Linked DNA regions of Homo sapiens. The protein of the gene in region 2 interacts with the protein of the main gene of each other region in a pairwise test. Each region holds a gene or a part of one and is shown on either strand. Other genes may lie near its edges.

Evidence for each region. The genes of interacting proteins can lie anywhere in the genome.
Region 1: the proteins of INSIG2 (region 2) and VMA21 interact in binary tests that used the Homo sapiens proteins (3 or more experiments, as listed by UniProt).

Annotation. Positions count from the first base shown.
Region 1 is NC_000023.11:151,406,252-151,410,872, forward strand, and holds the end of VMA21 (vacuolar ATPase assembly integral membrane protein VMA21), read left to right. Parts: 3' UTR 1-3,113; downstream 3,114-4,621. UniProt on the Homo sapiens protein: Required for the assembly of the V0 complex of the vacuolar ATPase (V-ATPase) in the endoplasmic reticulum.
Region 2 is NC_000002.12:118,096,299-118,105,478, forward strand, and holds part of INSIG2 (insulin-induced gene 2 protein), read left to right. Parts: intron 1-120; 5' UTR 121-258; coding exon 259-502; intron 503-6,898; coding exon 6,899-7,023; intron 7,024-9,180. UniProt on the Homo sapiens protein: Oxysterol-binding protein that mediates feedback control of cholesterol synthesis by controlling both endoplasmic reticulum to Golgi transport of SCAP and degradation of HMGCR.

The DNA of each region.
Region 1 (4,621 bases), on a different chromosome or scaffold from region 2:
TGCTAGTTTGATACACACTAAAAGTTTAGCTTACAAGTTCAAATTCTGCCAGCTTTTCCTGACAGCTATTTGCATTTTTTTCAGATGAGTGATTATTGGCCATTTTCTTTTTCTTTTTCTTTATTTTATTTATTTATTTTTTTGAGACAGAGTTTTGCTCTGTTGCCCAGGCTGGAGTGCAGTGGTGCAATCTCGGCTCACTGCAACCTCTGCCTCCTGGGTTCAAGTGATTCTCCACCTCAGCCTCCCAAGTAGCTGGGACTACGGATGCCTGCCACCACGCCTGGCTAATTTTTTTTTGTATTTTTTTGTAGAGACGGGGTTTCACCATGTTGTCCAGGCTAATCTTGAACTTGTGACCTCAGGTGATCCACCCGCCTCGGCCTCCGAAAGTGCTGGGATTACAGGCGTGAGCTACCACGCCCGGCCTTATTGACCATTTTCTAAATAAGCACATTCTATCTTTATTCTCTTAAAATTCAAATTTTCTGTTACTGATAATCCTAATACTAGGATTCTTGCTTAAGTATGTGAAACCATTACCGATTTGTTGTTCACATTTATTTTTTATGTTGTGAAACTGGACTAAAGGAATAGAGGGATGATTAGTCATAAAAGTCAAATAGCATTTGTGTTTAACTGTTGAGAAAAGTGAAAGATCAGTATGATTATTATGGAACTGTTTTTAATTCTTGCTTAAAGACTACAATTTTAGTATAATGACATTTGAGTCTAGGGTAGTATGTGGTAGATTTCTAGATGGTCCCTAATTAAGAAGTATTGTTGTATTTAGAATTGTCCACCTAATTTCTTTTTATATAATGCCAAGGTATTTCTTGTGCTTTTGGGATCTTATGCTGTTTGTAAAATGTTACTGTCCAATGTTGGATTATTGTTTTGGTTTCAGGCATTTGCTGAATAGGTGATGATACATGGGTATTTTTCTGCAAGTATTTAAACCAGGGGCATATGCAAAGGCAGTTGTAATTTCCTCTTGGAAAAAGCGCCAAATGTTTGAAGGTTAAAATCAAATGCTAGGGTTGATATTTAGGCTTATAACAAAATAGGCTTGTTTTCAAAGCAGTTTTTTCCTAGAGTTTTAACTGTTAACTCACTAGTTTGCTGCTGTTTTTAACTATGTTAAATAACATATGGTATTTGGCAAATAGATTTATTTTTCAAAATGTCTCACTAGTTTCCTTTTACACAATGTATATACTTCAAGATGTATAGAAAGGAAAGCTACAGTTGAGCCCTTATACATGTTTTAAGGTAGAAATATGTTCCCTATTGTTTGAAAACTGATTGTAAGAATAACCTCAGTTAGGAGATATAACTTGAAGTGTCAGTCCAAACTACTGATTTAACCCTATTTACGGTAACACATTACCTTCCTCACCTCCTGTTTGGCCCTGGAGAATGTAGTCCTTTTTCTCATTTGTGTTGAGAAATGAAAAGTCTGCTGTAGAATGTATCTGATGTCATTAGTTCTTCAAATGGATACCATTGTACATATAACAGTAGAATTTGGTTTGGGGTTGTTAGTGAAAAAAAATTTAAACCTGCCATTAAAAATCCCCATGTTTCATGGAAATCTAACAGAAATACATTGTAATAATTAGAACATTTTGTTTTCTTTTTTCTTTTTTTTTTTTTCGAGACGGAGTTTTGCCCTTCTTGCCCAGGCTGGAGTGCAAGGGCGCAATCTCGGCTCGCTGCAACCTCCGCCTCCCGGGTTCAAGCAGTTCTCCTGCCTCAGCCCCCTGAGTACCTCAGATGACAGGTGCGTGCCACCACACCCGGCTAATTTTTGTATTTTTAGTAGAGACGGGGTTTCACCATGTTAGCCAGGCTAGTCTCGAACTCCTGACCTCAGGTGATCCACCCGCCTCCGCCTCCCAAAGTGCTGGGATTACAGGTATCAGCCACCGTGCCTGGCCTAATAATTGGAACATTTTCATCATGAAAATGTCATCAGCTTTGCCAAAAGAAACAACCAATTGACTTGTTTGGCGTTTGTTTTCCATTTTCATGTCAATTTTATGTATACAGTTAGAATACCCAAGGAGACCACTAAAATCAGTTAAACAAGTAGGGTATATACAAAGAAAGATGAAACCCGAAAGTACATAAAAAGGATTTAAATCCGATTTTAGATGTACCTAGTGTGTATTTCTTATCTCTAGACAAGTTCATGTTTATTGTTTAATTTATGCCCAAGTGAAGTTGTAAACTTATGGTTCAACTCTGACACAGAATTTGTCACTTGTCTGAGGTCAGTGGCAGGTTTCTCTGCTGTCAAGCACTCTGTGTCACCCACCAGATTAGTATAACTATTAATTCAGACTGTACTCCTATGTTTAAGATAATTTTTACAAGAGCTGGCTGAAGCAGCACATTAGTAACCTGACAAGATTTCTTTTTCCCTTTTCAGGGGGAAAGGGTCACCTTAAAAATAAATTATTTTCAGGGACTTTGGGAATCTAATGATAAATATTACACATAATCTATGAATAGCTTAATCCTTTATATATTCCTTAAAATAGGAATTCCTCGACATCACTCCTGGCCACACTTTCCTTGCCTGTGTTGTTGCTATGTGTATTTGAAAGTAATATCTGCATTCCTTTTAAGATGTTCTGTAAGTCATATTTGTCAGTTATACAGAGTAGTCTTCCTTTTCCCCACGTTCAGTGTAATCTCACTGAACAGTAATAATAGCAATAGCTAACAACATCTGCACAGCACCTTACAGTTTGCAAAGAACGTTCACACATTCTCATTTGAGTTTTGCATAGTGAACCTGTTACGAGATGTCTCTTGACGTCGATGCTAAAAGTGTTAGAATCTTTACATCACTAGAGTCATTGAATATGCTGTAGTATTGAATAGTGCCCTGACTAGGGGGAGGATTTGGATGTGCTGCATTTCAAGCCGTGTATAATCATCAAAATGGGGGGCTTGAGTTCTTTAGCTACTTGAATCCGATTTACTTCTGTTAAGTGATGCTTTTCTAACCGTTTTCTGGATGGATTTTGTATTCACTATATTGTAGCTTGTAATTTGTATAAATGTACCATCTGATGTCATTAAAAAAAGTGTTTGTAGTGCTACTTTGCTGTGTCCTGATTCAATTAATGTTTTATTAACCGCTGTGTTTTTAAAAATTTGTTTGCCTGCTTCTCATTTTATAACATGTAGAATATGTACAGAGCTCACTTTAAAAAATTTGTTCGTTGGCCTCTGTTTGTGCTATGTAGATTATATAGAGAGCTGTCAAGGATAAGTTTTTATGCAGTAAATGTCAACCAGAAATGCTCAAACTGATTGGGAGTGTGGGGGAGGGGTGTTGAGCTGTAAAGGGCTGGTTATACTTCGTCTGGGGTGGGCTTCAAATGCCCCTAAAGGAGAGTTGAGAAATGTGGAAATAGATAATTCCTGACGACGTCCACATGCCACCCCCTCATGACCAATGTCCTGTGTCCTCTGTCCTCTAATCACCCGTTGATTGCACTCCAGCTCCTTCCTGTGCTTCTGAGGACTCCAGCTAATTCTTACTAATAAATGTTAATATCCCCTTCCCAAACACATTTGAGACGTCTTAGTATTAACAAATTTTATAGGTTATGAGATGTCCAGGGAACTCAGGAAACAGGTAATGGCATTGCAGAAACTACAGGACAGCAGTTCTGAAAGTTTACTGCAATCACCTTGTAGGATTTATTAAAAATAACTGATTGCCCAAATGTAACCCAGACCTTCTGAATCGGACTCTCTGGGGGTGGGGGCCTAGAAAGCTCTTTGGGGCAGGGCGTGGTGGCTCATGCCTGTAATCCCAGCACTTTGGGAGGCCGAGGCGGCGGACCACGAGGTCAAGAGATAGAGACCATCCTGGCCAATGTGGTGAAATCCTATCTCTACTAAAAATACAAAAATTAGCTGGGCACAGTGGTGCGTGCCTGTAGTTCCAGCTACTCAGGAGGCTGTGGCAGGAGAATCACTTGAACCTGGGAGGTGGAGGTTGCAGTGAGCCGAGAGCCTGGTGACAGAGCAATACTCTGTCTCAAAAAAAAAAAAAAAAAATTTTGGAACAGGCAGTGATCAACATGAAGCTGGATTGAGAACTACTGCTGGAGATTTAGAATTGTGCCTCCCAGTGTATGTGTTTAATGATGGACTTGAAGATGTTTGTATAAAGCCTGAAGTAAGCACACACCTTATTAGGCAAAGGTAGAATGTTGATAATGCTATATCGAAGGTGCAATTTAAAATAAGGAGACCTTTACTGGGTTCCTGACAATCCATATTGACTTTGCTTCAGTGCTAATGAATGATGTTGAATGAAAATTTTAGTACGGGGAACAGCCAACTTAAGACACAACTGAGGCGTGCGTAGATAGACATGGCCACTGCTGTGCCTGTGATGCCTTTTTCTTATTTGGAATCCTCACTGCTGTGGACTTTGGAGAGAAGGAAAACCAATAGGAGTATGTGAATTTGAGGTTTCTAAACCAGAGAGGTAATGGAGAAAAGCAGAAATGGTTTCTAGGCACATTTGTGCTATTAACCCTCTGGCTTCCCTGCCCCCCATTACCTTTCACTGCTTACGTGCCTGCACTTC
Region 2 (9,180 bases):
TAGTATACAAGCTTGTCATTTTCTTATTTGTCCATTTAAATTAACTAGTATTGAAATCAGTAAAATTACAATAATCATGTATTAGATACACATTAATTTCTTTTTTCTTATCTCTTGCAGGATTTCTGGTAGGTCCTACTTTAGGACAAGATGTGGTACCGTTGAAGCGTCAGTCTTTGATTCACAGACAGTTGAGCTTTTCAGCTGGGAAGCCTTTCCATTTTTTTTTTTTTAACGGCTTTCTGAACCTATGAAACCATGGCAGAAGGAGAGACAGAGTCACCTGGGCCCAAAAAGTGTGGCCCATATATTTCATCTGTCACTAGCCAGAGTGTGAACTTGATGATTCGAGGAGTAGTGCTATTTTTTATTGGAGTATTTCTTGCATTAGTGTTAAATTTACTTCAGATTCAGAGAAATGTGACGCTCTTTCCACCTGATGTGATTGCAAGCATCTTTTCTTCTGCATGGTGGGTACCCCCATGCTGTGGCACGGCTTCAGGTATGTGTAGGATGTTTCTGTAATGCTTAGAAAGGAAATAGGGTAAATGAGTATGGACGTTGTCTGAGCAATAAACCTTTTTAAAAAAGAAAATATATTTATTGAGATATAATTTAGGTATAATACACTGGACCCGTTTGAATTGAACAACTTGATGTGTTTAGGCAAATGCGTACAGTCACATGACCACTGCCAATCCAGCTGTGGAACATTTCCATCACCCTCCAGAGTCTCTCGTGTCCTCTTGCAGTCCATTCCCCACCCCCAGCCTCAGGCTACCACTGATCTGCTTTCTGTTGCCATAAATTATTTATCTCTGTTCTAGAATGCAATATAAATGGGCTCATAACGTATGTACTCCCTTCTGTCTCATTCTATCTGTCCTGTAAACTTTTAACATTTAATTCTGAAAAACAATCCTGTTTCCCTTAGGGATGAAGCATTTAACCCCTTAATTTTGTTCTTTCTTCAACCCATCTCATCTAAGTGTTATTTTAAGTTATTTGGATGATGAGCACCACCATTTGGTTTTAAGGGTTTGATGCATGTGCTGTAGTCTTGTTTCTGAAGTAATAAAAACTTGAATAATTAAAGTTTAAAGCTTCATGTTGTATTTTTGTAAATGCTTTTTTCCTTGGTATCTTGTTTTTATAAGTACCTTAGAATAATAAATATTTAAAGACATCTATAAGGTAGACTCTCTTTGCTTAAAATTAGTATCCTATTAGTTACTTTAGATATTTTTTTGGTGGTGGGCAGTGTGTAATGCATAGAGTAGAGCATTTCACAATACTTTATTGCTGCCATACTTCCACAATGGATAGCACTTTAGTGTTTTCTAATGACCAAGACCAATAGATTAATACTGTTTTTAATAATAAAGTAATAAAAGGAAACCATAATCATGTGGTAGAAGATAATTCTGATTGAAGGAGAAAATTGCTTTTTAAATACCCATTTGGTGTCTCATACTTAACATATATGAATGAATATCTTGCAACATAATATATGTCCTTCTTGGCTTCCATCCAAGAGCGGGAGGTTGAAGGATGAGGTTGCGCTTTACGGAAGTGTTAGAATGGCCTTGTGAAACTTGCTGGACAATTATAGAATCCTGTTGCACAGTTAGAGGGGCACTGTTGTAGTAAGGCTTCAGTGTTTATATACTGATGTCTCACTATTACATCGTTCACATTAAAAGTGAAGTCATGAAGGCAGTGATTCTTAGTTTCCCAGGGTTATCATTCTCCAAGAGAAAAGGCAAAAAATAGTCCAAATAAAAAACAAATTAAATTGTATCACTCTGCTGTATGTACTGGTCCTCATGCATTTTTCTTTCATTTAAATTCAGAAGAGAAAACGTTTTCTCAACAACTTTTCTAGTTCTTTGTTTCTTTTCTTCTATAGTATAGTCTGGCTGCCAGTAGAAGCTTTTTGGGACATGGAAGAGCATACATGTCTTTTCAGGATAGAACAGAGGGAAGGGAAACTGTTGTTTATTGAATGTCTGCTAATGTGCTAGGTACATCCTGTAATCCCAGGGTTCTGTAGAGCAACTTTGGGAGAGAGATGTTTGGCATTGTGCCTGTTATGGGGAGATGAGGACACTCACTGAGATGAAGAAAGAAAACCAGTGAGCCCAGGGTCCCAGAGCCAGTGAGTGGTGTGACTGGGTCCACATGTCACATGCTGGGGAAGGGAAAAGGAAGCTACTCACACTTTTCCCCCTACTCAGGATGCCACTTTTCAAGCCTCCAGACTGGGTGCCAGACCTAGATGGAATTCCCTGGCGTGTGTTGTGCATTTGGGCTGGGGCAGGAGAACTTAACTGAGGTTTCATTGTACCTCCACTATGAAGAGTAACAGGGCTGCACCTGCTGTCTTGTCCTTCTGCCCCTTTAATGTCAGCACTTTTGCCATAAACTTACATTTTAGGAAGGAAAATTTCAAATGCTAATACCACAGTTCAGCCACTACTTTCCTTCCTGTTCCCAGCCACTAGGTTTGTCACACTTACAAACTTAACCTCATTTGGGGAATTTGCATTTACATTTCTTGCTTAAGTATTTCTTCTGAAAGCAGTTTGTACCATAAGGTACTTGGGCAAAAGAAAGTAGAGAGACATTAGGAAATCTAGATTCCAGCCAATTCTGCTACCAATTTTGTTAGTTAAGTCATGGTGTTTAGTAGATGAGAGTGAAAGATATCAGATTTGTCCAAGTTGCCAGAGATGGAAAATGGATTCTCTCAAAATCTCTGCTCTGCCATCCCCTGCATCATTATTTTAGGGAAAGTATCATGGGAAAAGAAGTAAATGATTTAAGAAACATAGTGTGTTTGAGTTTGTGTGTGTATGTAATATGCATATGTTTTTGTGTATATGTGTTGGCGTGGATTTTCAAGACCTCGCTAGGGTCTTACCATCTTAAGTCAGAAAAACTGATAATCATCCTTTGATTTTCCTGTTCAACTAACATTCATAGATAGAGCAGCCACCTTTTGGAGGGGCTCCAGAATCACCACCTTCTGTGTGTAGAAAGTGCTCCTTGTTATTTGCCACCTTTCTCTATAGCACAATCCTGGAAAATTTGCTAGTGGTGGTTCTGGTGGGACAACTAATAGAGAACTTTGGTAAACTAATTTTGATGACTTTTTTTTCTTAATTCCATATTTTTAGTTTGATAATGCTGATGTTACAAGTTAACTTCCTTATGTGTGCCATGCACCAGAATTGGAATTAGAAATCTTTTCAGCATTATTGAGGGCCACAAAGAAATCTTTCTAAAGAATAAATAGAAAAAGACAACTCGTGTGGATAAAATAAGTAGAGAAGTTGCCTCAAAAATCACAAGTAGCCTGGTTGTGTCCAAACGTATGAAAATAATATCTAATGTAAAAAGAAAAGAAAAATCTTTCCTGTTTAGCTGTGCAGTCCCTTGCCCTATTCCTGTAGAGCCTTGTAAGATTCCTTGCTTTCTCTCCCGTTCTACATCCAGTTTCCAAGTCTTACATCTTTCCTCTGTCTCTTTCTTGGTCCATCCCTCAATGGCTGTGCTTGGAGTCTTTAGTCTTTGCCGGCCTCTAGTTTTGCACCCACCCTTTTCTCAGCCCCCTTGTATGGTACCCTCACTGCTAAGAAGATGGCCTCTCTCTGGTACAACAGTGATGACATTGTTTTCCTGATTGCCCATTGTCTGCAGGGTAAAGTCTTTATAATATGGCCCTTGACTGCTTTTTTCTTCTTCAGAGTCTTTCTGGACCCTGCAGCTCCCTTTGTGTCTGAAGCTTACAGCTTCCTCTTAACACCAGCAGTTTCCAGTTTTCCATGAATGTCCTCAGCCACCTCCCTTTAATGAGAGCACTATTTCTGCGCCATTTACTGCTGAATGCTCCTGCCTCAAGGGTCACCTCTTTCCGTGAAGCTTTTCTGACAGCCCAGCACCTTGCCTTCCCCTAGCACAGGCAAGGAGAAGCCTGGGACCCCTCTGTCCTGTCAGCTGCCCTTAATGCAGGATTGTATTTAATTGTTTCTGTGGTCACTTTGCAATTGGAATCGTATCTTACTCTTTTGCCTTTTTTTTTTTTTTTTTTTTTTTGAGACGGAGTCTCACTCCGTCACCTGGGCTGGAGTGCAGTGGCGCCATCTCGGCTTACTGCAACCTCCACCTCCCAGCTTCAAGCGATTCTCCTGCCTCAGCCTTCCGAGTAGCTGGGATTACAGGCGCCCACCACTACGTCCAGCTATTTTTTTGTATTTTTAGTGGAGACAGGTTTTCACCATGTTGGCCGGGCTGGTCTCAAACTCCTGACCTCGCGATTCGCCTGCCTCGGCCTCTCAAAGTGCTGGGATTACAGGTGTGAGCCACCACGCCTGGCCTTACCTTTTTAAATCTCCAGCAAATACCAAGAACCAGACATATTGTCAGGGCTTAAGTATTTGTTGAAGGAAAATATTATCTTATAGTTTTGCGTCGAAGTATACCTCATGGAGTGTTTTCGTTTATTCAGTTCCTGTTTTCTTACAAAATGTCTGACTTTAACTGTGTTCCTTTTAGTGCCTCCCTGCATTTAAGCACATTCCCATAAAAAAGTGATGACTTACTACTGATATTTTACAAACTTCTTTAGTGTTTAGCTTTGGTAGACTGTAACTAGTCACTGGGAAATAACTTAAAGGTATCACAAGAAATGTGATTTTTGCATCAGAGAACCATTTGATTTATAAGCAGGATTGTGTTTGCATATGATTTTACACAGGCATGATTTTAACAGTCTTTCTTGTTTTTTTTAAAAAAAAGTACAAGAAGAGGAAAAGAGGCCCAGACATACTCTGTTGAGCTCTCAAACAGTGGAACCTCACAGTGTTGTATATATTGCTATCAGACTCTGCCATGCCTTTATTTAAAGGAAAGAAAGAAGACATTTAATGGGAAGTGACAAGCTTCTTCGAATTCTCCCTCTCAGTGAGCAACTGAGAACCATGCATACTCAATGGATTTGATTTTTATTGGCAAATCCCAGGGTTGGCAGTGTGGCAGTTTAAATTTCTTTTTGTGTTTTTGCTTTCTCTCCTCAGTTGTCTCTCACTTGCAAGTCTGACATCACATGCATAAAAATATAGTCGATTTTACTTATTTATACCTTTGCACATACATGTCAGTATTCTCTATGTAATAATTCTTTACCTAGGCATCAGTTGCTCAGGAAAATTGACTTGGAATGTCTGCTCTTAGTTGACTTTACTCAGCAACAGGCAAAGGGAGGATATATATGGTGGGGGGATGGGGGTGACAAATGAGCTGTTAGTTTTATGACCCCTTGAGAAAAAAAGAGGTGATATTCGTTTAACTACATTTCAACTGTTAGGGATGCTTGTTGCCATTTTATTTGTATAGAAATTTTAAAATCCTGTCAGTTAATCTTGTCAGGATTTTGGAGCAGATTTTTAAATAGGAATATAGTGTGAAACTTCTAGATTTACTAATAGTTATTGGAGCTCTGCATTGCCGAGATATGTTCTTAATCTCTTGATGTTCTGTGAGCCATCTATACTCAGCACATGCCTAACTCAAAAGAGTTGTGGACTAGAAAATGCATACAGTATTGCAGCATCTCATCTCGAGATAGAAGGGTGGTCACACAGCCTTTTTCAAATGCTGCACCATTGGTCTGCTAGGCTGTGATTTTTGATACTAATTGGTTTCTGTTTTTCTTCGAAGAGTGAATGCATTGCCTGTGAGATACAGCTGGCTAATACTGGGTAGGGGGAGGGCCTCTTGTCCCTCAGGCACTTAGATTTTGGCGTTGTAATTTCATGATTCCTCTTAAGTGGTATTGGTTATTTTAAACATGCTTTTCAACTGATGTGACAGTAGTGTCTTTATTGCCAGAATGGCACAACATAATCATCCTGTTTTTAGGAAGATTAGAATATTTTCATTAAATAGTCTTTTTAATAACTAATTTAGCACTTAAAATTCCTTCCCACTAAATGAATAAAATGTTGAGGTTTGAGAAATAAGAAAGGGATGAGAATATTTTGGGACTCAATCATTGACATTTTATATACAGTTATGTATAATTAATGACACAACATTCAAAGTGTTCTTTCCAAAACTAAGAGAAGTACTAAGATGATTTCTTCTTCTAACAGTGCACTTAAAATTTAACTGAAAATTTTAAATACCTCTACACCTTGTTTCCTCCATTGTTTCTATGTGCAGAATGAGTCTTACCTGTAGATTTCTGTTGTGAGTTTTCCTGCTTTGACAATATGACCTACAGCCTCATTAAAGGGCTAGAGTGGAAAGGAGTGTCAGTAAAAGGTGCTACATGCTGAAGACTAAAACGGGAAGCTGGTAGGGGCGAGACTGATCTACGTAAGAGGCCAGCCAGAACCTTCAGAACATTGTGTGTATGATGAGCTTGTTGTATACTTTTATACTTCTAGATTCTCTTAGATTTGTGGCATATAATAAATATTTTATGGTTTGGAGTTTAGAGAGAACATTACTTAACTGCTAACTGGTTTGATACTTTTTTCAGGTCTCGTAGGTATCAGTAGTAGAAAAGTAGCATGAATCATTTAGTAGCACGAATCATTTAGTCCAGTCTGCTAAATTGTGAATCATACATTTGAAGAGTATTTTGTTGATTATAATTTAGAATGTTGTTGTAATCATTTGCAATACTTTCTTCATTGGTGTTATCCTCATTTCATTTCCTTTGGAAGGTAAGTTAAAAAATATCGGTGATTGATGTGAAATAACTTTTTTTTTTGTTTTTTTTTTTTTAAGAATCTTTAAAATGCTTGTGGTGGTTGTAGTGATTCTTTTAGCTTAAGTGTTGCCAGTACAACATTGGAGGTAACTTAATTTTTTTCTTTTTTCCCTACAGCTGTGATTGGGTTATTATACCCCTGCATTGACAGACATCTAGGAGAACCACATAAATTTAAAAGAGAGTGGTCCAGTGTAATGCGGTGTGTAGCAGTCTTTGTTGGTATAAATCATGCCAGTGCTGTATCCTTTACTCTGTAATGAAATGCATAATAACAAAGTGGCTTCCAACAAACCAAAGGTTAAACAGCCCCTTACAACTTCACTGTTGTCAAATTATGATATGCCCACTTAGTCAGAAGAAGAATGTCAACCATATTGTTGAAACATCGGTGTAGCAGCTGTGCAATTATAAAGTGGGGTATAGCCTTTCATTTCATTGTGTATTTTTCACTATCACTTAGAAACTTTGCAAATTTGAAAACTTTACTTGTTTTTCTTAAATTTGGTTACTTAATTACTTTTGTGTAGTTAATCCAAAAATGGAACAGGTACATTTTCAGAGGAGTTTTTTCCTCTCTTTCTTTGTTAAGAATTGCTAATAAGTACATGTGGTAGCTTCAGGTGCTATTTTGTCTTTTGTTTTTCTTAACTTAAAGAAGCTTTTTTTTTTTAAAGGTAGATGCATTGGTTTTAATCAATACCGACAAACCACATAAACGGCATAAGTAGAAATACCAACTTAGACCTTGGCCAAAAAATAAGTTTCTACCCTAGTACATATTTTCAAAGTTTTATTGTTTGAAGATTCAGACATTTTATTTAGTGGTTAATGAGTATTTTTACAGTGTCTCAGGTAGCCCCTATTCCCCTTCCCCTTTCTACCTTCTCTGCCCAGAAAAAAATGTTTGCCCTCATAAGGTTTTCCTCCTATCATCCTCTTTATTTCCTCTCTTGTACTTCCTCCTCATTTGCTCTGACTTTCCTTGGTAGAAGAGGAACTAGGAAATGCTATTCCTGTCTTTTTCTAGGAGATGTGGTTTAGACAATGAAGGTGGCAGGAGCCTTGGGTACTTGGAAAAGCAAGAAGTGTGACTCAGGCTGCCAAAAGTTTGCTCTTATAACTCTGCACTGGACTTGGGGCAGGCAGAGTTAGCTAGCTGGAGAGAGAGGGTGGGTCATGTGTCAAGTAGACCCCTGTGTCTTTCCCAAAAAGTATTGAGGTGTTTTGGATAAGCTTGGGGACAGAAACCATAGAAAAGAGCAGGGTCCTAGATTCTGAAAACACATCTGCCTTCCTCTGCACAGTTGTGCTGGCTGTTGCAGGTCTGTGAATTTGGAAGTCCCTCAGTGGCTATTATTAGTTTTAATTTCTGTTTGTATTGAGGACATTTCCACATGTTTATTTTGGTGAACTTTTTGAGATTTAAGATTTTATAAAAAATCTAGTGGTCAGGAGGGCTTAAAAAGTTAAAATCATATACTATTATATCTAGAAGAGAACTTAGAAATCACCTAGTTCCACATTTTCTTTGTAAAGATAATAAACAGAAGCTAAAGAGGTTAGGTAATTTACTAAGTCATTTATACTGCGACATTGCAGCAGAGCTGAGAACAGCCCTGAGACAGCCTGACTAAAGTCTAGAAACATCTCATTTTCCTACCCAGGAACCTCAAAACTGTGTCAGTTCCTCTCTGTCCGGTGGATTAGATCTTTCTCTCTTAGACACTTCCACTTTGATTTTTGTTTTTAAGTAGAGAAATTTAAATAGCCTTTTCTGAAATTCTAAAAACTTAATAAGTTCAAATTCTTTGCTTTGTTCACTCTCTTTCTCAATGAAATACTTAAATATAGCAATCTTAGATATCCTGTTGTCCTTCAAGTAAAGTCCAACATGTTTACCAAATTTATAGCATACACTTCTAATATTAGGTTACTTAGACTTTACAAAATCATTTGGCACTATTTTTTTATTTTTTGAGACGGAGTCTTGCTCTGTCACCCAGGCTGGAATGCAGTGGCACAATCTTGGCTCACTGCAAGCTTCGCCTCCCGGGTTCACGCCATTCTCCTGCCTCAGCCTCCTGAGTAGCTGGGACTACAGGCACCTGCCACCACACCCGGTGAATTTTTCTGTATTTTTAGTAGAGATGGGGTTTCACCATGTTAGCCAGGATGGTCTCAATCTCCTGACCTTGTGATTCGCCCACCTCGGTCTCTCAAAGTGCTGGGATTACAGGCATGAGCCACCGCACCTGGCCCATATGGCACTATTTTAAGATTGATATATCTATTTACGCTGGAAGCCTCCTTACTTCGCTGTGACTTTTAATTAAGTTTAGTTAGCAAACATGAAACTCATTTAATACCAAATTCCACTCTTTACATGAGTGTTTATT